7 separate regions of the Homo sapiens genome follow, and all the other regions are linked to region 1. Evidence: fine-mapped expression QTL. A gene starts in region 1. Each other region holds a variant in brackets. All regions are shown on one strand. Distances are from middle to middle. Region 1 holds the start of MAD1L1 (mitotic arrest deficient 1 like 1). Region 2 overlaps MAD1L1 (mitotic arrest deficient 1 like 1). Region 3 overlaps MAD1L1 (mitotic arrest deficient 1 like 1). Region 4 overlaps MAD1L1 (mitotic arrest deficient 1 like 1). Region 5 overlaps MAD1L1 (mitotic arrest deficient 1 like 1). Region 6 has its middle 45 kb from the start of ELFN1-AS1. Region 7 overlaps MAD1L1 (mitotic arrest deficient 1 like 1).

Region 1 (4,000 bases):
GGTGTGCGCCTGTAATCCCAGCTACTCAGGAGGCTGTGGCACAAGAATCGCTTGAAACTGGGAGGCAGAGGTTGCAGTGACCTGAGACCGCACCACTGCACTCCAGCCTGGGTAACGGGGTGAGACAGTGTCTCAAAATAAATAAATGAATGAATAAATAAATAAATAAACATAAGCCAGGCACTGTTGCTCATGCCTGTAATCCCAGCACTTTGTGAGGCCAAGATGGGCAGATCACCACAGGTCAGGAGTTCGAGACCAGCCTGGCCAACATGGTGAAACCCCATCTCTACTAAAGCCAGATGTGGTGGCGTGCACCTGTAATCCCAGCTACTCCGGAGGCTGGGACAGGAGATTTTCTTGAACCCAGGAGATGGAGGTTGCAGTGAACTGAGATCGCGCCACTGCATTCCAGCCTGGGTGCCAGAGCAAGACTCCGTTTCAAAAAATAATAATAATTAATTAAAAAAAAAATCTGGCCTCTGGGAATCAGAAACGAGGCATGCAACAGTGACAGTAAAGATGATGATCATCACAGCTGTGCTCATTTTCATTGTTTATTTCTAGTGACATTAATAAGTACTACTACTATTTTCAACTAGGTATCAGAAAGAAAGGTATCTGACATTTCCGAGCACCGAGACTTCTTGAACTTCAGTTTCCTCATCTGTAAACTCATGACAGTGAAATCTACTTGCAAAGTTGTGGGGAACGGGGCCAATATCCCTCAAGTCTTCCACCGCTAGATGATGGGAATACGGCTGCAGGTTGACCAGCACTATATTTGTAAGCTCAGTCTCAACAGGGTGGTGAATTAGGTCTTTTTACACAGATTCTAGAGATGATGAAACCGAAGCTTCAAAAAGTTACAGAACGGAGATTGGAACTTGGGTCTGTCTGGCTTTGGAAGGCTGAAGACAAACCGCAGTAAAGAACTTTGCACCCCCAACACCGGCGCTTACTATGGGCTCATGGCAGGCCGGCCCACCAGCCACAACTAGGGAACAGCCAAGCGCGTTTAAAAGCCAAAGGTAGAACTTCTGCAGCTGCACAGTTTCTGAGTTTCCATTTAACAAGAACCTTGGCCTGGTGCAAGCAGAGGCCTGAGCTCCCCAGGCTGCCAGCCCCGCAGAGGCAGGCCCGCCTGGAAGGAGGCTCCACAGCCCAATTCCTCCATTGCCCAAACGAGATCAGGGTGGCCCTTGCCATCCCCGAGGGGAAACCGGGCCCACACGCCCCCTTCCTGAGAGCGGACCGGCGCGAGCCACCAGGATGCCAAGAGCCCCTGCAGCCCCGACTTCTCCACCAGGCGCCAGCTCAGGCCCCTTCCTCGGCGCGCCGGCACCCTAGCCCGGGGACCCACACGGTAGGCAGCGGGACCCCGGGGCTGGGACCACGAGCACGCGCCCCTCGGCCGCCCGCCCTGGCACAAGGGACGGCTGCGGAGACCCAGGCGAGGGGCCCGCTGTCCCCAGCACAGCCCAAAGGGGGAGTGGGGACAGGGGAGTGGGGAGAGGAGGGGAGAGCACAGAGAGGAGAGCGCGCCCATGGGAGACGGGGCGGGCGCGGGGTCCTGAGGCACGGGGTCTGGGTCGTTGTGCCCCACCCTGGCGAGCACACCCGGTCCGGGCCCTCGGCCCCTCCCTTGCCATTCCCGGGACCCCCGGGACCCCGGGACCCCGCCGCCCGCGCGAGCCGGGCCGCTTACCTCAGCCGCTCGCAGCCAGCTTGCCGCCGCCGCTCGGATCTCCCTCCGCTCCGCCGGCGCCCATTTATCGCGACACTTGCGCCTGCGCTCTCGCGAGACCTGCGTGGCAATCGGGCCGTAAAGAACCGAGTCTGCGCACCGGCTGATCCTGGGGACTCCGCGTCCGCACCCGGAGCCGCCACCCCTGGGAGACTCCGCACGGAAAGGACTCGGAACCGAAGGCTGAGCCAAGGCGCAGTCGGGGGCCCCCCGGCTTTGCGCAGGACGCGCTTCCACTAAGGCTTTCGCCTCGCGCCGTAATGTGTGGAATAGCCGCGCCCACGGCAGCCTCCTCGGACAAACTTGCACCGTTGACTCTTCCCAAAATTTTGCTACTCAGTATCAGCTTGAATCAATCCGTTATTTTGCTTTTTTCTGGGCCCACTAGAAATGCAATTTATGCTACTAGGCTACCTTCCCAGTGCTCTGCAAGCCAGGGCACAGCATCCAATGGGGTGAGGTCAGGCCCCACCATTATTATGGTAACCTTTGTCTATCCTTCAAATTGGAGCCTTCCTGAGAAGAGTGTGCCTTACTCGTTTCCATATTCTCTTCCTCTCCTCCTCCCGTCTCTGCCCAGCCCCTGGCTTCCCTCTAAGAAGATGCTGTTCCTAAGGGTCTGCAATGAATTTTCCTTCTTTCAGAGAAAGACTTCCAAGTTGTGTGCCCCGGGAATGAAATGGAATAAGAGAACGAGGTGGAGTAGGGCAAGAGTCCCTGGACTTAACAACCTGACTGCAACCAGAAATAAAATGAAAAGTCAAAACATCTGGCGGCCGGGCGCGGTGGCTCACGCCTGTAATCCCAGCACTTTGGGAGGCCGAGGCAGGCGGATCACGAGGTCAGGAGATCGAGACCATCCTGGCTAACACGGTGAAACCCCGTCTCTACTGAAAATACAAAAAAAAAAAAAAAAAATAGCCGGGCGTGGTGATGGGCGCCTGTAGTCCCAGCTACTCGGGAGGCTGAGGCCGAATGGCGTGAACCCGGGAAGTGGAGCTTACAGTGAGCCAAGATCACTTCACTGCACTCCAGCCTGGGTGACAGAGTGAGATTCTGTTTCTCAAAGAAAAAAAAAAATCAAAACATCTGACCCGCAGTTTCCTTCGGGGAGCTGGACAGAGCCCCAGATTCCTGATGGAGATTCCTGGGTTTCCAGACTTCCCCCACTGGTCCTTGGAATTTAATCATAGTCAACAAACTCTTCTTGAGGGATGAGTACACCTCCAGGAAATGGCTTTGAGGAAGCCAGTTTAAAAAAAACAAAACTTCAAAGCATGAAAGTACCTTAAAATAATGCAATCTCTATTATTTTATTAAATATAAAGCTGCGTCAAGTTCCTAGATGAGTAAAAGAAAATAAACACACCACATCACTGCTTGCTTTGGCAATTACATTTATGTTCTTGGGAGCCCAGACACTGATATAAATTTCCAGCAAAAACCAAAGCAGACCCACTGCCTGGATAAATTCAGACCATACGTCTTCCCTAATTGTTCCGGGAACTTTTGCTGCTTGAAGAATGCGTGAATTGCTATATTGTTCACCAGAAAGACAGAAGTTAATCCCCAGATGGAAATTTCAGATTTTTCTTTTGGTTTGCTTTTTGGTTTTTCATTTTTGTAGACATGGGGGGTGTTGCTATGTTGCCCAGGTTGGTCTTGAACTCCTGACTTCAAGCAATCCCCCAGCCTCAGCCTTCTAAAGCCCTGGGTTTACAGGCATGAGTGGCCTCACCCAGCCCCCAGATTTTCTACTTTAAACAGCCACACTAAGAACTGGAAATCTGTGCGTGGTGCTCTCAGAGCAGGGGTGGAAAGCCTGTTTGTGTGTGACAGTTTAACAGTCTATAAGATGAAGTCCCGTCAAGGCACACATGGGCACACCCATCCCTGCCTCGGCGGATTCCTTCTGATCCTTCCCACAGTCTGTTTTTCTCCATCCTTCCATCCTCACCTCTTTCTCTTGATAACTTTCTCTTCCCAAATCACAATATAGCGGACTTTTTCATTTTCCATGGCCCCTGAACTTAGTTTTGTCATCTCTTTTTGGTTAAAAAGAGAGAGAGAGAAAGAGAGAGAGAGACTCCCCACTTGTCCTGCTCCATCTCCAAAATCAGCTCAAATCTCCCAGGAACTCTTCAGGAGCTCAGGCTACGTTTCTAGCTTAAAAGGAGCTAATGACCATTATGAAAATGGCACAAGAAATCCTCACTGCTTCACAGTGCCCTTCCTTCCGTGGTACTGTGTGGC
Region 2 (4,000 bases), 380 kb before region 1:
GAGAAGCGGCTGGGAGTCCCAGCGTGGGATGTGGTGGGACGGGGCTGGGGTGTGCAGAGACGATGATGGAGGAGCTCCTGGGGGCACACAGACCTAGTGTCGCTCTCAGGGCTGGGTCCGCAGGCCACTCTCCCTCCCTCAACAACACTCACGCCTGCTGCAGCCCCAGGAAGGGTCAGGACTCACAGATGCCAACAAGCAAGCAGCCCGTGCTGGAAGCATCACCACCACCGGCCCCAGCAAAGGCTTCCTGGTGTGTGCGGCTGACCATCGGCCACTCGGGTAGACAGAAGTGTGGGTGGGCTGTGTGCATGCCAGGGCAGACGGACAGCCCGGGGTCTCAGGCCAATGGAAACAGGAAGTTTCCGGCTCCATTTGAATACTGGTGGAAATGCCGGGCCCTCATGCTGAATAGGACACTCCATCCAAGCTTGCCGCCTCCTCGGAGGCTTGGGCCAGTCACCGGGCCCGGCTGTGCTTTCACAGCTGCTTTTCTTATGGGAGAGCAAGATCTCCTGGGATTCAAGACCCTACCAGGAGTAGAAGACAAGGGTCATGGGAAGGCTGTGTGAGCCCTCAAGGGGCACCATGGACCCCGAGCACCAGCGATTTGCGCTCCTGGTTCCGAGAGCCCAGCGCTGAATCCTGGCAGATGGGGAAGCTGAGCTCTGTCTGACCTGCTCTGGAAAACAACTGGTCCAGAGAAGGACGAAGATGTCACTTAATTCTGAGTTGCTGAGGATAAGCCAGGGGCCCTGGAGGTGACTGTGCTGCCCACAGCATCCCAAGGGATGCCACATCCCCACAGGGGCAGCCCAGGTCCCCCAGAGGATTGTGTGCCCCCCACCACCAAGGTCCTTGCCCACTGGTCTGTGCCTCAATAGGACAGCCTCCTTCTCACACTATTTTGAAATATAAAAATAACACTCATCACCCATCACCCAGTCACTCAGAATCACACCAGCGGGGGCACAGAGGCGACGGCATGTAGTTCTCCAGCCTGTTTGTGAGCACGGGTGTACATGTACACACACACACACACACACACACACAAATGCACATGCACGGACACATGCACACACACATACACGTGCACACACAGACATGCACACACACGTACACACATGCACACACACACACGTACGCACATGCGGGGTCAGGGAGCTGATGCTGTGCGAGGCTGTCGAGGGCTTCTTCACTCAGCGGCACTTGGGAAGCGCTGCTCTGTGGGAGGCCCCTCATCCATGTCCTCGTTATTGGCAGCACAAATCTCCAAGTGAGGAGGGGCCATGTTTACCAGCCGTCCTTCCAGCCCACGTCTCCTACGGTTCCTTATTTTCACAGGTACTGTTTTGCAGACACAGAGCCCCCAAGCAGCCCACACGTCTTAGCCGGGTGAAGCTTTGCTTTATGAAGTGCTGCCTGGACCCCTGATGGTCGGCCCTCCCCGTCGAGACAGTGGCAGGCAGGCGGGGGTGCTCAGGGCTGTCTGCAGGGGGCAGCCAGGACCTCACTGAGGTGGCCGACTGGGTCCACGCCCTCCTCAGCCTGCACTGCTGGACAGGCCCCAAGAAGTCGTGCTCGGCGTGGCCCAAGAACGGGAAGCGGCAGCGTCCTGGCGTCCTAGGTGAGACTTCAAGACGGCTCCCTGCTCCCACCTGGGCTAAAGGTGGAACCCCAGGTGTAAAGAGCCCCCTGGGGTACAGGGGAGGCTGGATCAGCAGACGCCGGCTCTGGGAGGGCCCTGAGGGGCTGTGGAGGGAAGGTGACCCCGCAGTGGCAGCGGCAGCGGAAGCAGGACGGCGCGG[T/C]GCCCGACACCTGAGGCCACTCTCCCTGGACGGGGGGCGGGCGGCACTGAGAGGCGGCCATAAAAACCGGAGTTTATTTAATAAAACAAGAGCCCACGCGGCAGCAGTTGCCTCCAAGATGAATGACAAGCGCTGGAAGGGCGGCCACCTTCCTCCAAGGAAGAAACAGCCCCGCTTTGATTAGGAAAATATTGGTTAATTTTCCAGTGGAGTGAGTGACCTTAAGGGGAAAAATCTAATTTCCGGAACAGCTCTGTGAGGCGTTTGTTCTCACCACTCTCGTTCGCCTTAATCTGAGTGGTTGTGGGTGAGCGGCGGCCGGGGCAGCGGCTTCCCCTGGACCTGGTGTTCGGTCCTGAACCCCTGGGCAGGCCTCCCCTTCTGGGGCAACAGGACGGAACCGACAGGCGCCCAGTCAGGTCCCGAGGGCCCCTCTGGACCCACGCCTCCAGGCAGCTCCCATCGCTAGACATCCTTTCCCACAAGAGTTCTATCTTACGAGGCGCCCACCCTGCCTCCTAGGAACTCACCCCCTGCCACCTCTGGAGCCACCCAGCTGCCTGGGCCCAGCTCAGCCCCCTGGTACCATGAACAGAAGCTGCTGCTTTACACTGGCTGTGGGGCCCAGGCTTCCTCTAGTGGGTCCAGGTGGGGGTACCCCAAGTTCCTGCAGGGCTCCAGACGGTGGGTCAGGGCCTGGGCAGATGATCTCACTGCCCCGAGCCTGTGCTTGACTCCGGGGAGCTGCACAGGTGACTCGGCAGAGCCGGCCTGGGCCGGAGAAGGCACGGGGCTGGACCCAGGTCCGGGGACCCCCAAAGCCATGGTTGCCCAAGTTCGCAGAGGGGAACAGGCACCCCAGGGCACAGGGCTAGCCCTGTGATCAGGCACCGCACTATCCACCCCTGCATACTGGCCCTGCCCAGCCACTGGTGACAGCAGTGATTGCGACAACAGCAAACACATGTTCACTGCAGGCCAGACCGTGCACAGAGCAGCCTCAGAACTAGGAGCTCCTCCCCTCCTGGGATGGGGAGTGGGGAGGGCACACCGAAACCTGCCTGACCCCGTGTGGGACCCCCATAGGAAGCAGCTTCCGGGCATCAGAGAGCAGGAAGAGACACGAGAAGGGCCTGGCGTCGCGTCCGTGGGTCGAGGACCACAAATGTGTTGCCCTAAGCTTCTGTGACCCTGCGTCCACCGTGGCAGCCCGGCTGGAGCCAACAAGGTGGCAGGGAGGGCAGGAAGTAAGCCCACAGGCCACAAGCGTCTGTGCCAGAATCTATAGGCACTCATGTGGCCCTCCCAGCCCAACTGCTGACTGATGGCGGCAACCCTGTGGGGTGACCCATGCCCAGACCAGAGCGGGCGGCAGGAGCCCGGCCTCGGCCGGCACAGGGTGGAAGGTGGGGGTGACCCACGCCCAGACCAGAGCCGGCAGCAAGAGCTTGGCCTCGGCCGGCACAGGGTTGGGGGCTGATGGCTGAGCCCATGGAGAAGGTGGGGGAGGGTGTCTGCACGTTCGTCCTGGAGATGGGACTCGAGGTCACGGGAAACCCCGACAGGGAGGCCGTGCTGGGACAGCTCAGACCTCGAACGTGCCATCCTCGTGGATGAGAGGCGTCCCCAGCAGTGCCCAGGAAGCCCCTGATGAACTGTGCGTCACCCCAGTGACCAGGGCCAGAGGAATCTGCTCGGGGCCCCGGGACAGCACGGCTAGTCTGAAAACTCGAGGAATGCACGATTCCTGGAAAGTCACCAATCACCAACCAAAACGGTCCCAAGAAGAAGAAAACTAGAATGGAACAGTTAGTGAAGGCGTGGCGAGGAAGACGGCAGGAGGTCCACACAGGGGAAGGTGCTGGGGACACAGCCTTCAGTGCCGGCGACCTCTGCTTTCTCAGGAACAGGCACTTACAGTGTCGCGAAACCTGTTCAGCATCCCAGGCAGGCGCAGAAGGGCCTAACTGATCTGTGACGCCTGCCTGCCAAAGGCCAGGCCTCCTAGGTGCTGCCCAGGGAGCTAGAGTCGCCTGCCTGCCAACAGCTGGTTCGCCTGGCTGCTGCCCGGGAGCTGGAGTGGCAGAAACAATGGGTGGGACCAATGGTGGGAAGAGCTCGGGGAGGCAGGGCCCGGCACGGGTGGGCGGACAGTGTCAGCGGCAACGAGAGGGGCTGGGAACCTTCACTGG
Region 3 (4,000 bases), 220 kb before region 1:
GACAGGGCAGGAGGGAGTTGGGAGAACGAAGGTGGCTGTGGCCTGGGGTGTCAGCCACAATGCGTGCCTGTCCTGGGCCTCCCCAGGTTCTGTGGAGGGAGGGTGTGAGAAGCTCACAGCAGAGTCCCAGCACCGAGGAGCATTTGGCAAACGTCCACTCCTCCCTCACCTTATTGTTCCAAGAACACAGCTAAAGTAAGAAAAACAAAGAAAACACCGAAACCCGCACGGCCCAGCACAGGAGAGACGGGACATCACTAAACCCGCACGGCCCAGCACAGAAGAGAGAGGACATCATTAAACCCGCACAGCCCAACACAGGAGAGACGGGACATCACTAAACCCACACAGCCCAACACAGGAGAGACAGGACATCACTAAACCCGCACGGCCCAGCACAGGAGAGGCGAGGCAGGACATTGGGGTCCCGAGAGACCCAAGACGACGCTCTCTGTGTGCGCAGAGGAGGCTCCCAGATGGGGCACCAGGAAGCTTTGGGGGACAGGCTCTCATGGGCTCCAAAATGCGCTAGAACTTCTCCTTCTGGACAAGCTGTAGGAACCAGCACAGACACACCCCCCACCTCAGTCCCCAGACACCAGATACAACACAAGGAACAGTGGGATTCCTGCGAGGGAGGGCAGGCAGCTCAGAGCTCAGAGCCGCGGGAGGGGATGGGGTGAGTCCCCCAGGACGCAGGCCGGGGCAGTGCCACAGACAGAGCCCAGCAGGCCTGCTGGGTGAGGAGAGAGGAATGGGAACTCCAGGAGGCACAGATGGGCAGCTGGGCCTGGCAGGCCAGCACCAGACAGAGGGAAGGGACCTGAACAGACGCCACCAGAGAAGAGGCGCCGAGGTGGAGAAGCACGGGAAACGCTGGGCACGTCAGTCACTGGAGACACACAGATTGAAGCCAGGGCTAAATGTGCTGCTGCCCCGCTGGATCCAGATACCAAAGCCGACAGTGCCACAGCGGAGCGTTCTCCCAGCTCTGGTGCCGACAGCCTGTGCAGTAACGCGTCACTGGACCCCGCGTGTTGCCACGGTATGGCCGCTGGGAAGAGCCTGGCAATGTCTTAAGAAGTTAGGGCCCGGCCCGGTGGCTCACGCCTGGAATCCCAGCACTTTGGGAGGCCGAGGCGGGTGGATCACCTGAAGTCAGGAGTTTGAGACCAGCCTGGCCAACATGGTGAAATTACTAAAAATACAAAAATTAGCTGGGTGTGGTGGTGCATGCCTGTAGTCCCAGCTACTCAGGATACCAAGGCAGGAGAATCACTTGAACCCGGCAAGCGGAGGCTGCAGTGAGCCAAGATCACGCCACTACATTCCAGCCCGGGCGACTGAGCGAGACTCTGTCCCCACACTGTCCCCGCCAAAAAAAGTTAAACCCCACAATCCTACTCCTGGATGTAGAGCCCAAAGGAATGAAAACCTGCATTCACAGGAAGTCTGGCACGCAGATATTCACAGCAGCTCTGTCCCAGCTGGCAAGAATGGGAAACCACCCTGGTATTGGTCAGTGGGTGAACAGACGAGACCATTTTGGTAGAGTCTCAGGATAGAGAATTATTTTGTAATAAAAGTAAATGAACTGCTGATACAACGTTGATGGGTCTCAAAAGCTCTGTGCTCAGTCAGAGATGACAGACACAGCAACTGCAGGACTCTGTTTACGTGAAGTTCCAAGAAAGCCCAAAACAACAGTCACAGGCCCCAGACCGGTGTCTCTACGAGCCAGGGGTGGCAGGAAACTGACGGTCAACATGGATCAAATCATACAGATAAAGCTGGGGGATTTTACTGAGTATAAATCATATTTCAATAAGGCTGCCTTTAAAACATGGAATCCCCAGAGCTC[G/A]GGGAGAACCACACTCACAAGGGCGAGGAGCTGGCACAGCCCGTGTGTGCACTGGAGAGCAGCTCCCGCAGGGCCTCAGACAGCGCAACTCCAGGCTGGTCTCGGTAGGGTTCCTCCAGGAAACCGCATCTGTGATGGAGGCAGTGGGTGGGCGGCAGAGCACCCCCTGTGGAAACACCCTGGACAGTGCACTTTAGCACTGACTGTGGGGCTGCCCAGTCACCTTCGGGGGACACAGACACCTCTCACTCTCTGGGTGACCGGGTGGAGCCCCCAGGCCCTGGCCACAGCGTCCTCACCTCTGAGACAAGAGCTCCCCAAGCTCAGGTTGGCTCCGCAAGGCAGTGTAGGGTGCAGCCTGTTCTGATGCGGAGATGGTGGGATGGAGAGAGAGCTTCCCAAGGCCCGGGGTGGGGGCTGGGCTGACGGCTGGGAACACCAGATGCCAAGCCTGCTCGCAGGCAGGCCAGGCACTTCCCCAGCCTCAGCCCCTCCTCCACAGCCCACCCCGGGCTGGGTGCAGACACACAGGAAGCTCAGGTGGGAAGGAACACGGCTCCATCCCAAACAGCCTCAGACGCAGACACGCAGGAAGCTCAGGGGGGGAAGGAACACGGCTCCATCCCAAACAGCCTCAGACGCAGACACGCAGGAAGCTCAGGTGGGAAGGAACACGGCTCCATCCCAAACGACCTGACGCAGTGCTCGGGTTCCCCAGGAGAGGCCAAGCCCACTCGGAGCCAGGCTTCAGGGGCACACACCAGGGAGCACTGAGGGGTGCGGAGGCTGTGGGGAGAGGGTTTCATCACATGGCGGGAAAACCAGTACGAGCAGGCCCCCAGCGCAGCCACGCCCCGGCCCCGCAACCCTGGCACCGAGTGACCAGGGAGCTGCCTCCACCCAAGCAGCTGAAGGGTCACACACAGCTCTTTCCGGGTGGGACCACGTGTCCCGGGTGGCTACGTGTGCTGAGACACGAGCCCCGGGCCCTGGCGCCCTTGGCACCACCGAGGTGCTGCACAGAGGCCTCAGCCGGGCTATTTTTATCCTGAGGTGAGAAGTTGCTGCCTGTGATCCAACACTCCTGCCAGCCAGGACATGGCAGAAAATGGCTAGGACAGGCAGCCACAGACCCCAGCAGCCACAGGACAGCCGGACTGAGGAGGACCAGAGGGCACCAGGCACAGACCCCACACACGGTACAAAGGCTGGAGCTAGGGGAAGGCAGCCCCACCGGTGGTCATGGTCACGGTCACGTGGAAAAGGATGGGACGGAAGCTCAGGCCTCCACCTTCCTGGCCAGGTCTCCAAGTGGCTTGTGACACAACGTGAAGAAGCAGGAGGCGGCACACCACAGGGTCCCCACAGGGCTAACCAGGCCACAGCCCCAGCACCTGCCCCTGGGTGAGGCTGTACACAGAAGCTCTCCCTGTGGGTGGAGGTCTGAGGATGACTGTGAGCCCAGCGCTGGCCACAGAGCACACAACAGGCAGTCAGTGCACGGTCAGGGGCTCCACTGCAGCCCCTGATGCAAGGAAGGCTAGGGGGTGGACGCCCAGGCCCTGGGGGATGCTCTGAGGGTGGCAGCAGGTCCTCCCATGGTGGAGAGGACAGAGCCTGCCCTGGGCTTATTCCTCACGCCCAGCAACGTCAGCTCCTGTGCTGGGCAGCGGTGCTCTAAGTGTGTGCTGCCGGGGGTGGCACCGGCGTGTCACGGGGAGCCCGGCTCAGCGCAGTTCTGTACTGCACAGACGCCCCGTTCTGGGAATGGAGCCAGCACCTCGCGATTCCCACTGAGGACCTGTGGCCACACAGCAGAGGCTCCCACAGCCCAGACTCCAGGGTGGTTTCCATAAACCCCTTGGCCCACTTTTCTTCACTGCATGATTTTTAACAGGTTTTTTTTTTTTTTTTTTTTTTTGGCTTTATCTCTGCTTCGTACAGTACAGTCATCTCAAGTTCTTTCAATGAGGGAAACATCACCAACACACTCACAAGTATTGGGCCTGGTGAACAACCCGAGGCCCTGAAGATCAGGCTCTCCCCAGCCCTCCTGGAGCCAAACCACCCACGGCAGCCAAGTGACAGCACCCGCAGAGCTGCCCGAGCCTCTGGGAGGTCACGGGGAGGAAGGGAAGA
Region 4 (4,000 bases), 97 kb before region 1:
CTTCTAGTTTCTTACTTGGTTTTAAGACGGAAATAGTTGACAAGTAATAAGAAATTAGCTTCTCTATGACAACAAAAAGAAAAATCTGCCCATTTAAACAGGACCAGTCACCAGAGCCCAATTGTGTCCAGCAGCTGCACACGTCTCTGGAGAGGCCACCCTCTCTTAAGGACTAGTCTTGGATTTGTGGGGTTCTCAGAGAGCAACTTGTGGCTGCCCAAGTTCCTGGCTCCACCAGAAATCAGGTGGGCATGATCTCCAGGCCCCAGGGACACCCCTGCTGCTCATCTAGGGCAAGAACACCTGAAAGAAGTCAGCTCTGCTGCTTATGGGTTGAGCCATCTTCCTTCAACTGCCCGGAATGCTGCAAAGTGGGCCTTTTCTAGGATACATGAGTCACCGTTTCCAGAAAAACCAGAACTGAGGACACCTTCCCAGACATTCAATGACTGACGTTCATTAATGATGTTCATGTTCAACACACAAAAAACACCCCCTACAATCTAATCAGAATTTTGAGCAAACACTACCCAGAAAGGTAAGACTAGCCACGAAAGGTGTGAAGGAACGGTGAGCGCACCTGCCTTCAGCCCTCACCCACCCAGCAGGCAAGGCTGAGCAGAACCTGTGTGTGGGGCCCTCAGGCCACTAGGCCCTCCTTCTTCCAACTGCACACCTGTGCGGGGCCAGACTTATTCCACAGACTCCAAAAGAAGAGACCGTGGCAGATGGACGCAGACACGAGATGCTCCCATCTTCTATTTCACCAGACACTGAAGAGATTTGTAAAAAGTAAAAAACAATGCCATTCCTCTCACTGTCTCGTTTTGTGTTAGAAAATGCATTTTTCATAAATATATTTTGTTAAGTGATAATGAATTGTTTTTAATGAGATTATAAATATAATTGTAAATAATGATTTAATTTTAATTTTAATTTCCAAAGATGGTAAATACTGATAGTTATGATTCCCCACAAATAAAAACTCTTTGTTTTCGGTAATTGTTTATCATTAAAGGGGCCTGGACTGACAAGTGAGGGCAATGCTGGTGCAGAGGAAGGCTCAGGTGGTGGGCAATGTCCGGGCCTCCTGCCCCCCAGCTCTCACAGCGACCCTCGGGACAATGCCCACCAGCTCTCGCCACCTCTCACGGCCACATATGGGAGTCCTGCCTGCCACCTCTCATGGTGACGTGTGTGCACATGTCCCAGGCCCAAGGGAAAGTACACTCATGAAGGGAGCAACGGCCTCAGCAGAGACCTGAATCTGAGCCTTTGGAGGTGAGTCCAAGGATCTCTATTTTCAGGCTCTTTTCGCCATATAACTCACAAGCAGCCAGGCATTTGGGAAGCGTGGCCATGATCAGGACCACGCGGCCCAACGCTCTCTAGTCCCCTAAGGGATTCACTGCTGGTTTCTCTTCCCAGGCAGAGGGAAAGCTCCTTCAGGGCAGGGGTCACAGCCTTCCTTCTCCTAGAGCCCCTATGTCCACTCCAAGCTCAATGAGACAGAAACAGGAAGCCGCACTTGCCCCACGCTGACCAAAAATGCCTGTCACAGCCACGTCCACACTGTTCCTCCTGCAGACTCTGCGCAACTGTGTTTCTCGGCCACAGTATTAAAAAAGGGTCAGCATTAAGAGGCTTCATGCCCTG[C/A]GGAAGCGACCTGTGATATCTGAGCTTGAAAAAGCATCGCCCTGATGAGAGGCAACGTGGTGAGAGGGCACAGGCTTAGGAGACAGCCAGCCCTGAGCTCACAAGCAGACTCCAGGCTGAGTGGCTCCACAACCTTGGGGAAACTGGGGCAAAGCGAGAGGCTCCCCGCCAGCAGGCAGGATCAGTGCCAGGGCAGGGGGACACGTGTGGAGTGCCTGGTACCCACAGGTGCCTAGCAGTGGATGTTTCTTTGTTCCGACTCTCTTACCCAAGTTTCCTAACAGGATCGAGAGACCCTCCCAGGTCTATGGCACCAACTCGAGCTCAGGATGCTGGCAACACCAACACCCTCCCTCAGACCAAGTGCACTCACCTGCCCAAAGCCTGCCCCTTCCAGGGGCTCCTGTTCTCCACAGGCAGACTCTGAGCCAGCTGCATTCCTCGGTGGGGGCCCTTCCCATCTCTTGGCATCTCCTCGGGGCTCAGCAGTGGAGGCCATGGTGGGAGGGCCTGAGACTGATTTTATGTTCTGCCAAACAAGGAAGGAAAGCGTACTCCAATCGCCTGATGGCACCGGAGCTGCTCTCCACACCTGCACACCAAGAATCCCAGCTCGGCATGGAAAGGAGCCGGCAGTGGCCAGCTTCAAGGCTAAGAAGGAAGCTCTTGGCTCAGAGCTTACAAAGTTTACAACAAGTTACAGGGAAACTCAAGAAAAGCGTTCATAAGAGGATGCTCCCAAGTCCACTGATGATGCCCTGGGCTTGGCAGTGCCGGGCATGAGAGAGGAGGCCTCGAGGACCCCACCTCAGTCTCCCCAGATAGCAGCTCCTGGCAGCCCTGACCCTGCTCTAGGCTCCGCTGTGGGGTGTGGGCTGCTCTCCTGGGGTTAGGCTCACACAAACCCCTTCAAAATAAGCAAGGAAACAGAAGTTCAGGGCACCAAAATACTTAGGGACCAACCCCAGCAAGGGCCCTTCTCCCATCTCCCTATTCTCTTCCTGAAGCAACAATAAACAACATTCAAGTAGTATTCATTTCTGTGTTTTCTCCAAATGTTTGAGGAAATCTACATTCTACTACCACCTTTTGGGGGCCAAGAAAGATGTTCGCTTGCAAAGGACAGAACTGACCCAAGCACCCTCTTCTCAAACGTATATGGCACTCCAGATGCCGTTTTCTGATTTGGGGAGCTGAGGTCAGACACCTTCCGCTCTCTAACAGAAACGTCACAGAGCGGCAGGCATGTTACCGGTCTGCTTGGCCCATGCAAGTGAGGGGCCCACACTGCCTCCTCCTTCCCTTCTGCACCTTGCACACACCACCTCTGGCCCAGGTGAGTGAGGGGCCCAGGCTGTCTCCTCCTTCCCTTCTGTGACTTGCACGTGCCACCTCTAGCCCCAGGTGCAGACAGGCTTGTGCCATGGCACTGCCTGAAAACCTCAGCCAGGAAACAGAGCGCTTTCCCCATGGTCCCGGGTCACCTCAAAGATGCCACCTCAGGCTCCCACACAGGCCAGATCCACAACCGGAACAGAAACTTCTCCAGGAAAGGTCTCCTGACCAGCAGTTTCTGAACTGTGCTCCTCTGGCCCTGGAGGCTCCAAAGAGGGGAAGCCAAGCAGGAGGTGGACGTATGGGGCAACTACACGAGGACACGATACCGGCCATGATGGCAGCTGCTGCTCACAGAGCGTTTCTGTGCCGACGGTGCCATGTCGGATAACTATGCGAGGGCCACACGACACCAGCCACACGACACAGGCCATGATGGCAGCTGAAGTTCACAGGGCGTTTCTGTACTGACAGCGCGGGCCAGCCCATGATCAGAGCACAGAGCTGTGAGTCCCAGGCCCTTCACCAGGGCTGCACCCACGCTGCGCTCTCACCACCACTGGGCAGCCCCTGACACTGCGGACCTGAGACTGCTGTTACAAAGGGTTTCATGGGGGTGGGAGGAAATGCCAGCTTTTTTTTAACTTGCTAAAGAGGGTGAGAGAATGCAGGGGTGCATACAGGGTCCAAAGGGAAGGAGAAAGGAAGGGGATGCATCTGCTGCCCCAGGGGACGTGCTCCCTGGCCACCGTCCTGGCTGCGGCAGCGCTCAGCAGGCTGGCGGTGGGGCGGTCAGCTCTGCAGGTGCACTTAGTCCAGAGCCACTCAGCCTAATGAAATGAGGCATCCTGAGAACCACGACGAGGTGGGCGCCAGACCAAGTGGCCTAGAGAGATGAGCACTTCAGCATGCAGAGGTTGAAAACAGATCCTACTGACAAAACGGAAGGAACCACATCAAGAGGTGGGGATTGGGGGCATGAATGCCAGACGCACACTTCCGGCTTGTT
Region 5 (4,000 bases), 390 kb before region 1:
CTAACAGACTCCTCAGTCATTTAGGTTGGGGGCAAAAGGGGCTGGCCGCAGCTTCGTGTAGGTGGAGCAGGGCTTGGTGGGAGGGCGGGGCTAGGTGGGCTTGCCCGGGGTCGAGGTGGTGGTCACCGTCTAGTCCCCACCCAGGACAGACACTCGGGGTCCCAGGGAGGGCTCTGCCTCCTGCCTGGCAGGAAAGCGTCCTGCCCCCTGCCTGGCAGGAAAGCGTCCTGCCCCCTGCCTGGCAGGAAAGCATCCTGCCCACCCGGTGCCATGGCCTGGGGAGTGCTTGGCTCTCAGGCCAGCTGCCCGCAGGACAAGCTGGGCCTGGGGCGGGGAACCAGCCTGTTCGCTTCCGAGTGGGGCTGACAAACCCCCAGCCTCTTCACAAAGGCTCCAAAAACAGAATGTCGTGGAGAACTGGACGCAGATCCACAGGGCCATAGAGAGCATTTCCGGCTTAGTCAAAGGAGTAACTTTCTAACAGTTTAAACGCGCGAGATGGGATGTGCAGGCTTGGGAGGCAGTGGACCAGATAAAACCATTGGCCAGAAGATACAGAAGGGCTCTAGGCTGCCCAGGCCCTTCAGTTAGAACATCCCCCCCGCCTCCCCCCGGCTCCCAGGGCAATGTCAGAGACCATCTGGATGGAGGATGGGGCTGGTCCTGGCTTCTCACAGCTTGGGAGGTGGGGCAGCTGGGCACCAGGTCAGCAAGCCACAGGTCCACCCACGGCCAGGGCCCAGGCTCCCCGCCTCCCCCCATAACCACCTAGGCATGGAGCACAGACCCTGCCTGGCCATCGGCCCCCCAATCCCTGCTGGAAGACGTGCCCAGGCGGAGCAGGACCCCCGCATTACTGCTGCGCATCCAGCACCTGCAGCGGGGCCCAGCACGGCGGGCATTCCACATGGGCGAGGGCCAGACGAGTGAGCCACACCCCACCCTTTCCTCAACCATCCCCCATGAGGACGACATCAGAGTCATCCCCCAAGCCCAGGTCTGACACTCTCTTTCCCCAACTTTGGCCTGGAGCCCGAGGCCTACCCCTCTGCTCTCCCTGCACGCTGGATGCCCTGGAGCCGGTGAGCGTGAGCAAGTGAGATCCTGAGGCCAGAAACATCTCCCCAACCCAGCCAGACAAACTCTAATTCACCCGTGAGCCCCAGCTCCAGGCCACCTCCTCCAGGCAGCCTTCCTTGACTGCAGTGCGCCCCGGGGTATCTGGGAGACGCCTCTGCACAGTCTTTGAATCGGGCTGTACAAGTATCTGTCCTAGCAGCAGCAGAGCCGCGTCATAAACAGTAAAACAAGCCAGGCGTGGTGGCTCACACCTGTAATCCCAGCACTTTGGGAGGCCAAGGCAGATGGATCACCTGAGCTCAGGAGTTCCAGACCAGCCTGGCCAACATGGCAAAACCCCGTCTCTACTAAAAATACAAAAAAAGCCAGGCATGGTGGCGGGCGCCTGTAATCCCAGCTACTCGGGAGGCTGAGGCAGGAGAATCGCTTGAGCCCGGGAGGCAGAGGTTGCAGTGAGCCAAGATCGCGCCACTGCACTCCAGCCTGGGCAACAGAATGAGACTCCATCTGACAACAAAACAAAACAATAAAACAGCAACAGCAGTTCAGGGCTCCTGCAGTTCAAGGTTTTAGCGGCCTGGGCATGCGGTTTCTCTGCCTACTTGGACCTGAGCAGCCTCCCTCTGCCCAATGTCACTGCACACTCCCTGCATGCCCCAGCCCTGACTCGGGTGAGTGGACCGTGCAGACGGCGAGAGGCCACGCAGGCCAAGCCAGGATAGAGCAAACCCTGGCGGGGCCAGGTGGTCCCCGTGCGTTTGCAGCCTGGATGTGATGCCCAAATCTCTGGGCCAGGCACAGCTCTCCACTGCCGGCGGCTGGTGGGATTAGATGTGACCAAGGCCGCTCCCGGGCCGGCTCTACTCTGTGGGGGGCAGGTGCGGCTCTGGGGGTCCTGTTGGGCCTGAGCACGTCCCGATAACCTGGCTGCTGCCCACTGCCCAAGCGCCAGAGCACACGGCCACCAATGAGAGCTGTGCTTCCCTGGTCCTGGGTTAAAAATATCCCCGTAAGTGACAAGACTTTGAGAATTTCGTCTCTCCAGTCACTCACATGGGGGGCGAGGACAGCTCTTGGCTCCGCGTCTCGCCCGGCTGCATCTGATGCCTCCCTGGGCTGAAGCTGCATCTCATGAAACAGACGAGAAGTCATTCACAGCCCGACAGCACAGGCACAGAAATTTGCTGTTTTATACCAAGTTGAGC[G/A]GCCTGTCATCTAGAAGCTTCTGTCCTGACCTCCTCAGCAAAGAGGAAGTCACGGAACCGGCTGCTGAGCCTCCTGACCTCGGCCTGGCCTCTCCTGGCAGCTGTGGGCCCCAGGATGAAAGCGGGCACCACGTCACTCACGAGACAGAAGCTGTCGTTCTCAGAGCCTCCCAGGTGAGTGGCCGGGCGCCTGCCTGAAGCTGGACGAGCCCACAGTGGCTGAGGCCGGTGGGGACCCAAGGGGCCAGTCCGGCCTTCCCGGACCACCAAGGAAGGTGGGCGCTGCTTCCCTCGCGGGGCAGATGGTCTCGGCCGTCACTCTGCTGTCCCCGTCCTGGCTGTGAGCTCAGCCTCAGTGTCCCCACCTGTGAAATGGGGAGACCCCCAATCCTTCTGGGCGGGTGCCTCGCTTCTGCCCTCGCATGAGTCTCCCCTTCCTGAGCTGGGATTCCATCTCTGCTGGGAATGAGGTGCTCCCTGGCTGAGAACCCGGTAGCCAGGCACAATCACGCCGTCACCACCCCAGCCCTCAGCCAGACCCTGCCTGCTCGCCGCGCTCGGCCGCCATCTTCCTGTGGACGCCACTTACCCTCCGGCGTCACCATCCGCTGCAAATTGCCTTGTTTTTCGTCTTTGGCAGGGCTGAAAATTTGATCATGAAAGGGAATTTTCTTTTTTTTTCTTAATTAGTACTTGGTAATATCACCAAGCTGTGAGTTTATGGCTTTGTAGATCTTGTGTGTTTGACACTAACTACTCACAAAGGCTTTTAAAGCTGCATTTCAACTCTGCAACTACCATGCCGGTAATTAAGCCAGAGGAAGCGGCGACAGATTTCACTTTTCACAGACACCCTTCCCACCTGTGCTCCCGCTCCGTGTGGCCGCAGCCCCCGTGGCCCTGTGGAAACCCAGCAGCTCCCTGCGGCTCCGGCCCTGGAGGCCTGAGGTGGCCTTGCCTCCAGGAGCCCGGCCTCAGCCGTCACAGCCGGGCTTGGCCCTGCACTTAGGATCCAAAGGGCAACTCTTGGCAGCTGGAAAGGTTCTCCCAGTCCACAGGCCGCCAGAATCCCTTCCGGCGCATGCCTGCCTGAGCTGCCACAATGCCGCGTGCTCACTGGCCCCCCAGGCCTGTCCCAGGCGAGCTGAGTAACTGCAGCCACCTGAGCCCCGGCGAGGGACAGACAGCTATGCTTCTTCAGGTCCCCGAGGGAGGCCTTCGTCCTTCGTCCATCGCTGGGCCCATCATTTACTGAGTAGCTACTGCCTGCAGCTGCAGAGGCCTCCACCTCCCACTCCTCACCTGGGCCCCTGCAAGGCAGCCGAGGCCCAGGGCACGGTCAGGCTGTGTCCTGGAGGGGAGGGTGGGCAGGGCCTCTGAGTGCTGCACAGCTGCGTCCCACATGTCAGCCCCTCGCCCAGCTGGCCCTCCCTGTGGCTCAGCACACGGGCTGCCTTGCGGCTGGTTCCCGGATGGGGAGGGTACACTGCCTGGAGCTCAGGGGCTGGCTGGGGTGAGTCCGAGGCCGGGCTCCAGCACAGCCTTCAAGTGAGGCCCACAGTGGGGCTGCTGGTACTGAAATGGCATCCTGGCTTCCCAGTAGCACATTCCTTGAGTGTGTCAGTCCCTCTGGGGACCATCTGGAGGACGGGGGCTAGAGAGCAGCCCTGGTCATTCTCCACCAAGACCACACATGAGGCCCCGATGGCACAGTG
Region 6 (4,000 bases), 450 kb before region 1:
CCCTGTACTGTATTTTTCAACCAATCCCTGTACTGTGTTTTTCAACCAATCCTGTACTGTATTTCAGTCTCCAAAAAAAAAAGAATATTTTTCATTCTTTTTTCAACCAATCCCTGTACCATATTTTTTCATTCAACCAATCTCTGTACTGTATTTTTTCATTCAACCAATCCCTGTACTGTATTTTTTCGTTCTTTTTTCAACCAATCCCTGTACTAACATTTTAGGAGTGTCTTTTTTGTTTTTTATTTTTATTATTTATTATTTTATTTTTATTTTTTTGAGACAGAGTCTTGCTCTGTCACCCAGGCTAGAGGGCAGTGGTGCAGTCGCGGCTCACTGCAACCTCCACCTCTCAGGTTCAAGCAATTCTCCTGCCTCAGCCTCCTGAGTAGCTGGGACTACAGGCACCTGCCACTACACCCAACTAATATTTTGTATTTTTAGTAGAGATGGGGTTTCACCATGTTGGCCAGGCTGGTCTCGAACTCCTGACCTCAGGTGATCCACCTGCCTCGGCTGGGATTATAGGCATGAGCCACCACGCCTGGCCGTGGGCATACAATTTTAGAGCTTTTCTTTAACAGTTTTTTTCTGTCTAAACTTGGAAGATAGTTGTTCCTGTTCCTTTTTTGCTTCTTTTATGTGTGATAGGAAGTCGTAGGTGGTCTGTTTGTTGTAGTGTATGGGTGACCTGTATGTTCTCTGGTGCAGCTTTTAAGCCCTGTGTGTCATGTTCTGCAGTTCCACTATGAGGCACCTCTGAATGGATTTCTACTCTTCCTGCTTGGATTCATCTGGGTTTCCTTATCTGAAAGACTATGTCTTTCATTCATTCTAGGAAATCCTTTGCCATTATCCCTCCTGACAGTGCTTCTCTCCTATTCTGTGCAGAATTTCTTTCTGCAGCACCAATTAGCCCTGTGCCGGACCTTCTCCCCTGACCTTCTGTGTCTCAGAGCCTGTCTTTTCACCTCTGATTTTCTTGGTGCTACATTCCCTGTAATATCAACTTCCAGTCTACTAATTCTCCCTTCAGCTGTGTCAGTCTGTGTTCAGCCCTTGTGCTGCAGTCTGTGGATTTTCCGCAGGTCTACCTTCTAGTCTGCCAATTTTTTCTTTTTCTTTTTCTTTTTCTTTTTTTTTTTTTTTTTTTTTTCGAGACAGAGTCTCACTCTGTTGCCCAGGCTGGAGTGCAGTGGCTCAATCTCAGCTCAATCTCAACCTCCATCTCCCGGGTTCAAGTGATTCTCCTGCCTCAACCTTCGAAGTAGCTGGGATTACAGATATGTGCCACCATGTCTGGCTAATTTTTATATTTTTAGTAGTGACAACGTTTTGCCATGTTGGCCAGGCTGATCTCTACCTCCTGATCTCAGGTGATCCACCTGCCTCGACTTCCCAAAGTGCTGGGATTACAGGTGTGAGCCACTGTACCCGGCCCCAATTTTCTAATTCTCTGTTTAGCTGTATTTATCTGCTGTCTAATCTTCCCAGTGATTTAAGATTTATTCATGACTATATTTGTTTTACTTTGTTTCTTTCCTAGTTTTTAAATTCTCTTACTATGTTTTCATTTCCCTATTTCAGGTCTTTAAAAATATTAAACGTTGTGTTTTATATGCTGTTTTCATTAAGACCAATATCCCAGGTCTTTCTGGGCCAAGTTCTATTTGTTATTTGGGCTGATCTTTTACATGGTGTCTTGCTTTCTGGTAGTTTTTTTATTAAAATCATATTATTGTACATATTATATGTAAATATATATTTGAACTTGACCTTGGACATTCTCTAAGGCCTGGGTTGAGGCATATTCCTCCAGAGGAAAATGTGTTTGTTTTGGGCAGGTTCCTGAGGCACTACAAATCCACATTAAATTACAATTCTCAGTTGGGCACGGTGGCTCACGCCTGTAATCCCAACATTTTGGGAGGCCGAGGCAGGCAGATCACCTGAGGTCAGGAGTTCAAGACCAGCCCGGCCAACATGGTGAAACCCCATCTCTACTAAAAATATAAAAATTAGCTGGG[T/C]ATGGCGGCGGGCACCTGTAATCCCAGCTACTCAGGAGGCTGAGGCAGGAGAATTGCTTGAACCTGGGAGGCAGAGGTTGCAGTGAGCCAAGATTGCACCACTGCACTCCAGCCGGGGTGATAAAGCGAGACTCCATCTCCAAAAAATAAATAAATAAAATTAATTACAATTCTCACCTTGTCATTTTGGGGTCATGCAAAGAGCAGAAGATTTAGGAGCCAAGCCCGTGGCAGGGCTGGTCAGTGCTGCACATTCTCTCGGGATTTAAGAAATAAACTTGCCTGGTACTAAGGTTAAGACAGTTTCCCTGCCGACTAAGGCTCAGGATGTTTCCTAGTTCGCCTTTTCCTGAAGGGGGCAGCCATTCCAGAATGCTGGCTTCAGGCTGGGTGCTCTCTGACCCCTTCCCAGTGTGGTCCCCAGGCTTGGTGCCCCGTCCCTCTTAGGACAGAGTCGCCGTGTCAGAGCCACCTTCGCTCCCCGAGTATCTGCTGGCTTCAGCCCCTCTCCTGCCTCTTGGACTCTGGCTGTCATTTTGTCCATGGACTCCCAGAATTTCTTTTGGTTGCTTGCAGGTTCATTCTGGCAATGTAATTTAGGTGTTTTGCAGGGAGTAATTGCAGGGTCTCTAGTCCAGAGCTCTCAACCTTAGCTTATATCCGAGTCCTTGTTAGCAGAGCTTGTTAGCAGAGGTTCCCAGCACCCCCTCCAGAGTTTTGGACCAAGACAGGCTGGGGCAGGCCTGAGAATCTGCATGTCTCAGGAGCTCTCGGGTGATGCTGGTACTGCCGGTGCATGGGCCACACGTTGGGGGCATCTGCCCCTTTTTCCTCTACAGCACCTGGCGGGCACAGGCGCTCTCATCAGGCACGGAGGAGCGCCACATTGGGGGTGTTCAATTAATCTGGTGTATCTGCCTCGAAAGCCACCTTCACAGTGACTCAGATTTTAGCATGTGTGAGCATCACCTGGACAGCTTCTTAAAACACACAGTGGCCGGGCGCGGTGGCTCGCATCTATAATCCCAGCACGTTGGGAGGCCAAGGTGGGCGGATCATTTGAGGTCACGAGTTCGAGACCAGCCTTGCCAAAATAGTGAAACCCCGTCTCTACTGAAAATAGAAAAATTCACTGGATGAGATGGCTCATGCCTGTAATCCCAGCCACTTGGGAGGCTGAGGCAGGAGAATTGCTTGAACCCAGGAGGCGGAGTTTGCAGCAAGTGGAGTTTGTATCACTGCACTCCAGCCTGGGTGACTCTGTCTCAAAAAATAAAATAAAATAAAAACACATAGCGTACTTGCCATCAGACTGTTAATATTAGTTACAAAGAATCAACTTAGAGTTTCTACGTGTCACTAATAAACTATTATTCACATAAATTCTGTTTTTATGTATTGCTTCCTCCTGCTTTCTTGACATGTGTCTTGATGTCTTTAACCCACTAGCTTCATTTCTGCTTGTTAAATAATGAAAACATTTAATCCTATGTATTTTTTTTTCATAGTCTTAGCTGGATCTAAGTTTAAACAGCGATTATTTTCTCCATCGTTACAGAGTTTAAGTGCAGTTTTTATTTCCTCTTTGACCCAAGACTCATTTAGCAGAATGCTTTACACGTGCAACTGAATCATAAAATGCTTCTTAATTTCAAGTTATAATGCATTGCTGTTTGAGAAAATGCTCCACTCAATTTTTTTTTTTTGCATCTCAATGTATTGTCAGTCTTTCTGTCACATAGACACTCAAAAGTTATATTCTCTGCTTGAATAAAAAATAATTTGAACATATATTTATCTCTTAAGTATATCTCTTTTACAACATTTAGATTTTCTCCGATTTTTCCCTCCTTGAGCGAGCCTTATGATTCTCCAGAATCCTGCCTGGAGAGTTCACAGACCATGACACAGGGAGGGGGACCCCGGCTGAGCTGCTGGACTCACAGAGCTGAGGAAATGGAGCTGAGGGT
Region 7 (4,000 bases), 68 kb before region 1:
GTGCAACAGGCACAAACCGGCACATTAAGGATGGGCGGCCAAGGCCTCCAGGGAGCAGGACTGAGTGAGCACCACAGTGTTTACAAAACTCAGGAGTGATCACAGAGCCCAGGGGCTTGCTCTGGGAGTGTGGGTTGGGGGCGTAATGGGATGGAACTAGGGAAGGTCCACATGTTTTCAAAGAAACTTTCCTTTTTCTTGAGAATGGGCACACAGGCGACAGTATGTATTCTTTGTTTTTTGTTTTTTGAGACAGAGTCTCACTCTGTCGCCCAGGCTGGAGTGCAGTGGCACAATCTCGGCTCACTGCAACCTCTGCCCCCCCGGTTCAAGCGATTCTTCTGCCTCAGCCTCCAGAGTAGCTGGGATTACAGGCGCATGACACCACACCTGGCTAATTTTTTGTATCTTTAGTAGAGACAGGGTTTCACTATGTTGGCCAGGCTGGTCTCCAACTCCTGACCTCATGATCCGCCCGCCTTGGCCTCCCAAAGTGCTGAGATTACAGGCGTGAGCCACAGAAGCACACTTTTCTACGTATAATGCATTTTAAACTTGGTCATGAGAGTTGCTGTGCAGCAGGAATCGACACTCTCCTAGGCAAGCCTGGGGAGCACTGGACGCCCTGGAGGCAGCCTGGGCCTGGCTCCTCTCAGAGCTGCCCCCTCCTCACCATGCGAATCTGACACAAAGCATCTCCCTCATCCATGCCAAGAATTACTGGGAACAGAAACGTGCATGTAAATAGTCTTGTTTTCAAAAAGCAGGTTCTGCAAACCATCCCAAGCATAAAGAGGCAGCAGAGTTAACACCTTAGTGTCTGCAGTCAGTCAAGCACTCAATTCTAAGTCCATTCATTGCGAATCTGTGACTCTGAGCTCTCCAAACCTCAACCCCCCACCTCAGGAAAATGGGAACAGTTACAGTCCAGCATGGACTCACTGAGAAGCGGATGCATGCAGACACCTATGTCCTCTTCTCAATAGGTTACTTGTATAACGAACCGCTGTATAAACAGAGACTACAAGATCAGAAATAAATATTTCTCTATCCACTGGCCTCTTTCCAGAGGAGACATAAGGTGATTCTAACATCCTCAGGCACTGTTCCAGAGTGCCGACTGATGCAAAGGAATGGGAGAGGCAAGAGAACAGCCTGGCACAGCAGAAAGCCCGCACTCTGGAGGCAGCCAGGTGAAGGGCCCAGCTGAGCCTCAGTTTTCTGGTCTATGAAACAGACAATTCGACCCTCCTGCAGGAGCTCTGCGCTGAGGGCACCCGGCAGTCAGTGGAAAACCCTGGACCCCTGTGACGGTTGCTGGTGCCCACGCCCATCGCCCGAGCAGGGGCAGACGGCATGCCTATCAGGTTGTAGGTCACATCAAATGGAGACAGCAGATATGTTAAGTGACAGAATCAGAGTCTAAAACCACACTAAGAAGCAGGAAAAATGGGGGGGGGGGGGGTTGCGGGTGGTAGAGGAAAAATAAATTTTTTGACAGTTGCACCAAAAAAAAATCAATTGTAGAAACATATGGTGGTAGGGCACACCTGCTCCATCAGCATAATCTGTGAAGATGCCTGCAGAATCTGCATCCAGTGAACAAATTTAACTGAGCACCTGCTGTGTGCCCAGCAAGGACACTACATGGACAAACAGACAGAGTCCTTGGCAGCTAGAGCTGAGTGGCTCGCT[A/G]AGGAGGCCGACCATGACAAGAGTGGGCAGGTGACATCCCCAAGGCCCAGAGGAGGTGACAGTGGCTTGATCCAGTGGCCGGATCTGGAGAAGAGTGGAAAGCCTGAGGCTGAGGGAAGGGGGCATGTTGACCCGGGAGGGCCAGGAAAGGGCTCTAGCTAGGGAAAGGTGACACCTGAGCACAGATTCAACGAAACAAAAGGTGGGCAATACAAATACGGCTGGGCGCAGTGGCTCACGCCTGTCATCCCAGCTATTCTGGAGGTTGAGGCAGGAGAATCGCCTCAACCCGGGAGGTGGAGGTTGCAGTGAGCCGAGATCGCACCATTGCACTCCAGCCTGGGCGACAAAGTGAGACTCCATCTCAAAAAAAAAAAGAAAAAGAAAAAAAATAGAAAGGGAAGAATTTATAGGAAGTTCTACAACAAACAAGGCTAAGCTACAGCTGCCGGGGATGAAGGGCTGGACTGGGGGGACCCCGGGAACTCTGGACTGATAGAAGTGTGTTATCTGGACGAGTGCACATGTTCCACTTGTCATGACTCATCCAACAACACACCTCAATCTGTACACTTCAGTGTCCAGGCTCAGGGGATGCCTGAGCCGTCAGCATGAACCCACGGTCACACTCTGGGATGCGAGCCACCATGGGAGGATGCTGCTGCCTGCCGCACTCCAGCCACCAGGACCACCCTCTGCAGAGCGGGAAGAAGCAGCCGTGCACAGCAGGGAGCTGAAATGGGGAAACGTGGTCCAGGGGAGAGGGGACTCTGCGCCGTGTTTCACTAAACCAAGGTGGTGTCCACGGCACGAAACGACCAAAACACGCGTCTCAGCTCAACAGAATGGAAGGGGTGGGACAAGTGGGTGCTTTGCTAGGTGGCAGACTCCCCATCCCCAAGAGGTACAGGGAAAGACTGACGGGCAAGGTGGCTGGAGGCTCAGGGCGAGACAGAGTGCCCCTGAGGACCACGGTGGGGCTTGGAGCAACATGGCCATGGCTGGATGGCCACCCCATGCTGCCCACAGCCCCGCTGACAAAGGCAGGTCTGTGTACGCAGAATGACCGGCCCCCAGGGTACACCTGTGCCTGGAACTCCAGTGTGGTTACTGTGGGTCCACATGCTCTGCGAAAGAGGAAGTAAGTCCTGGGGTCCATACTGATGAACGTCTTAGAGCTATTAGGGTCACTCATTAAGTGACTTCAGTAAAACCACACGTTCTCCCATGTGGAAACTTCTGACAAGAACAGGCCGCCAGCAGCAAAGTCCACGCCACCACGACTGTGACGTGGTCCATCCAGACCTCGCCTCCCAGGAGGGGATCCCGCCGCAGCCCTGGACCCAGGCCATGTTTTACAGCTCTTTTGCCAGAAACTGGCCCCCATCTCTCTGAGCTGTCCACAAGTCAGCAACTTGGCTCAACTGCTGCAGGGACATGAGTTACAAGGGTCCCCAGACACATGTAAATAAAATGAAGAAATGCCGGCTTTACAGTTGCTGCCCTCGCACTCTTTCTCCCAGCTCAGGAAGGATCTCAAGGGCTTCAAAGCAGCCTGGGTTCCAATTAAGCCCGTGTGACCACCCCAGGGATGCCAGAACATTCCTGATTAACAAGAGGCGCTGTTTGAACTGTTCAAGCTAAAAAAAAGCCCTCAGAACCTTTCAAACAAATGCCATAATTTTCTCTCCCTGTTTCCTCACTCTTTGGAAAAGCTGATCTTTTGAATGCTTTAAACGTTCAAAAAGAAAGCTAGATAATGGCCCCAAACACAACTTCGGCAAGAAGCTCAGAACAGGGGCAGCAAGTGGAGAGCTTGGGATGCAACCACACACAAGCAGGCCCGCTTCCGGGAGGCGTGGCCCGGCCGGCCTGAGGCTGTGACAGCGTGTGTCCACTGTCCACAGCAGCTGGGCCGGGAGAATGACCTGGGCGGAACCACGCCTGGCAGGGAGCTGCAGGGCCTCCATCATCATGCCAGGCGAACCCAGTGACAAGGGCCTCAAACAGAAGAGGCCCAGGGAAGGGCAGCCCATGGGCCTGAGAAGCACCACTACACACCTGGGCGGCGCACTCCGCTCACAAAGCACTCTTCCAGGAAGGGCCCCGGGCTGCTGGAGACTGAACCGGAATCTGCCTAACTGGTGGAATCCCCTTTTACAAAGAAGTGCCTGTAGCTCACGGGGCTAGAACCCAGGAAGGCCCCAGGTGAGCTCGAAACCCTAAAGCAACCCCGCTGTGGACAGTGGCATCGCAGATAGGAGAGTGCCGGTGAAACAGTAAGACCAGGGCAGCATGCTTCACT

What was found.
Region 2: its variant is fine-mapped to the expression of MAD1L1 in whole blood (INTERVAL, PIP above 0.99).
Region 3: its variant is fine-mapped to the expression of MAD1L1 in whole blood (TOPMed, PIP above 0.99).
Region 4: its variant is fine-mapped to the expression of MAD1L1 in whole blood (TOPMed, PIP above 0.99).
Region 5: its variant is fine-mapped to the expression of MAD1L1 in whole blood (TOPMed, PIP above 0.99).
Region 6: its variant is fine-mapped to the expression of MAD1L1 in whole blood (TOPMed, PIP above 0.99).
Region 7: its variant is fine-mapped to the expression of MAD1L1 in whole blood (INTERVAL, PIP above 0.99).

Annotation. Positions count from the first base shown.
Region 1 is chr7:2,231,164-2,235,163 of GRCh38, forward strand. It overlaps MAD1L1 (mitotic arrest deficient 1 like 1), which reads right to left and starts at 1,782. Exons shown (of 19, transcript NM_001013836.2): 1 at 1,709-1,782. It overlaps MRM2 (mitochondrial rRNA methyltransferase 2), which reads right to left. Exons shown (of 3, transcript NM_013393.3): 3 at 3,032-4,000. The coding sequence ends at 3,959. RefSeq lists silencers at 1,281-1,700, 1,678-2,056 and enhancers at 1,691-1,985, 1,771-1,900, 2,635-3,167.
Region 2 is chr7:1,848,022-1,852,021 of GRCh38, forward strand. All of the region lies in intron 18 of MAD1L1 (mitotic arrest deficient 1 like 1), which reads right to left. Among named protein-coding and RNA genes, the nearest start is that of MIR4655, 5.8 kb to the left of the region's middle. RefSeq lists an enhancer at 1-501. The variant T/C (reference allele first, on the strand shown) is at 1,809.
Region 3 is chr7:2,006,312-2,010,311 of GRCh38, forward strand. The region is part of intron 13 of MAD1L1 (mitotic arrest deficient 1 like 1); the gene reads right to left. Among named protein-coding and RNA genes, the nearest start is that of SNORA114, 81 kb to the right of the region's middle. The variant G/A (reference allele first, on the strand shown) is at 1,862.
Region 4 is chr7:2,134,564-2,138,563 of GRCh38, forward strand. All of the region lies in intron 11 of MAD1L1 (mitotic arrest deficient 1 like 1), which reads right to left. Among named protein-coding and RNA genes, the nearest start is that of SNORA114, 48 kb to the left of the region's middle. RefSeq lists an enhancer at 3,958-4,000. The variant C/A (reference allele first, on the strand shown) is at 1,657.
Region 5 is chr7:1,839,139-1,843,138 of GRCh38, forward strand. All of the region lies in intron 18 of MAD1L1 (mitotic arrest deficient 1 like 1), which reads right to left. All of the region lies in intron 1 of LOC100127955 (a long non-coding RNA gene), which reads left to right. Among named protein-coding and RNA genes, the nearest start is that of MIR4655, 3.1 kb to the right of the region's middle. RefSeq lists an enhancer at 1-408. The variant G/A (reference allele first, on the strand shown) is at 2,286.
Region 6 is chr7:1,785,024-1,789,023 of GRCh38, forward strand. No RefSeq gene overlaps it. Among named protein-coding and RNA genes, the nearest start is that of ELFN1-AS1, 45 kb to the left of the region's middle. The variant T/C (reference allele first, on the strand shown) is at 2,031.
Region 7 is chr7:2,163,143-2,167,142 of GRCh38, forward strand. The region is part of intron 10 of MAD1L1 (mitotic arrest deficient 1 like 1); the gene reads right to left. Among named protein-coding and RNA genes, the nearest start is that of MAD1L1, 68 kb to the right of the region's middle. RefSeq lists an enhancer at 2,821-3,150 and a silencer at 2,975-3,185. The variant A/G (reference allele first, on the strand shown) is at 1,696.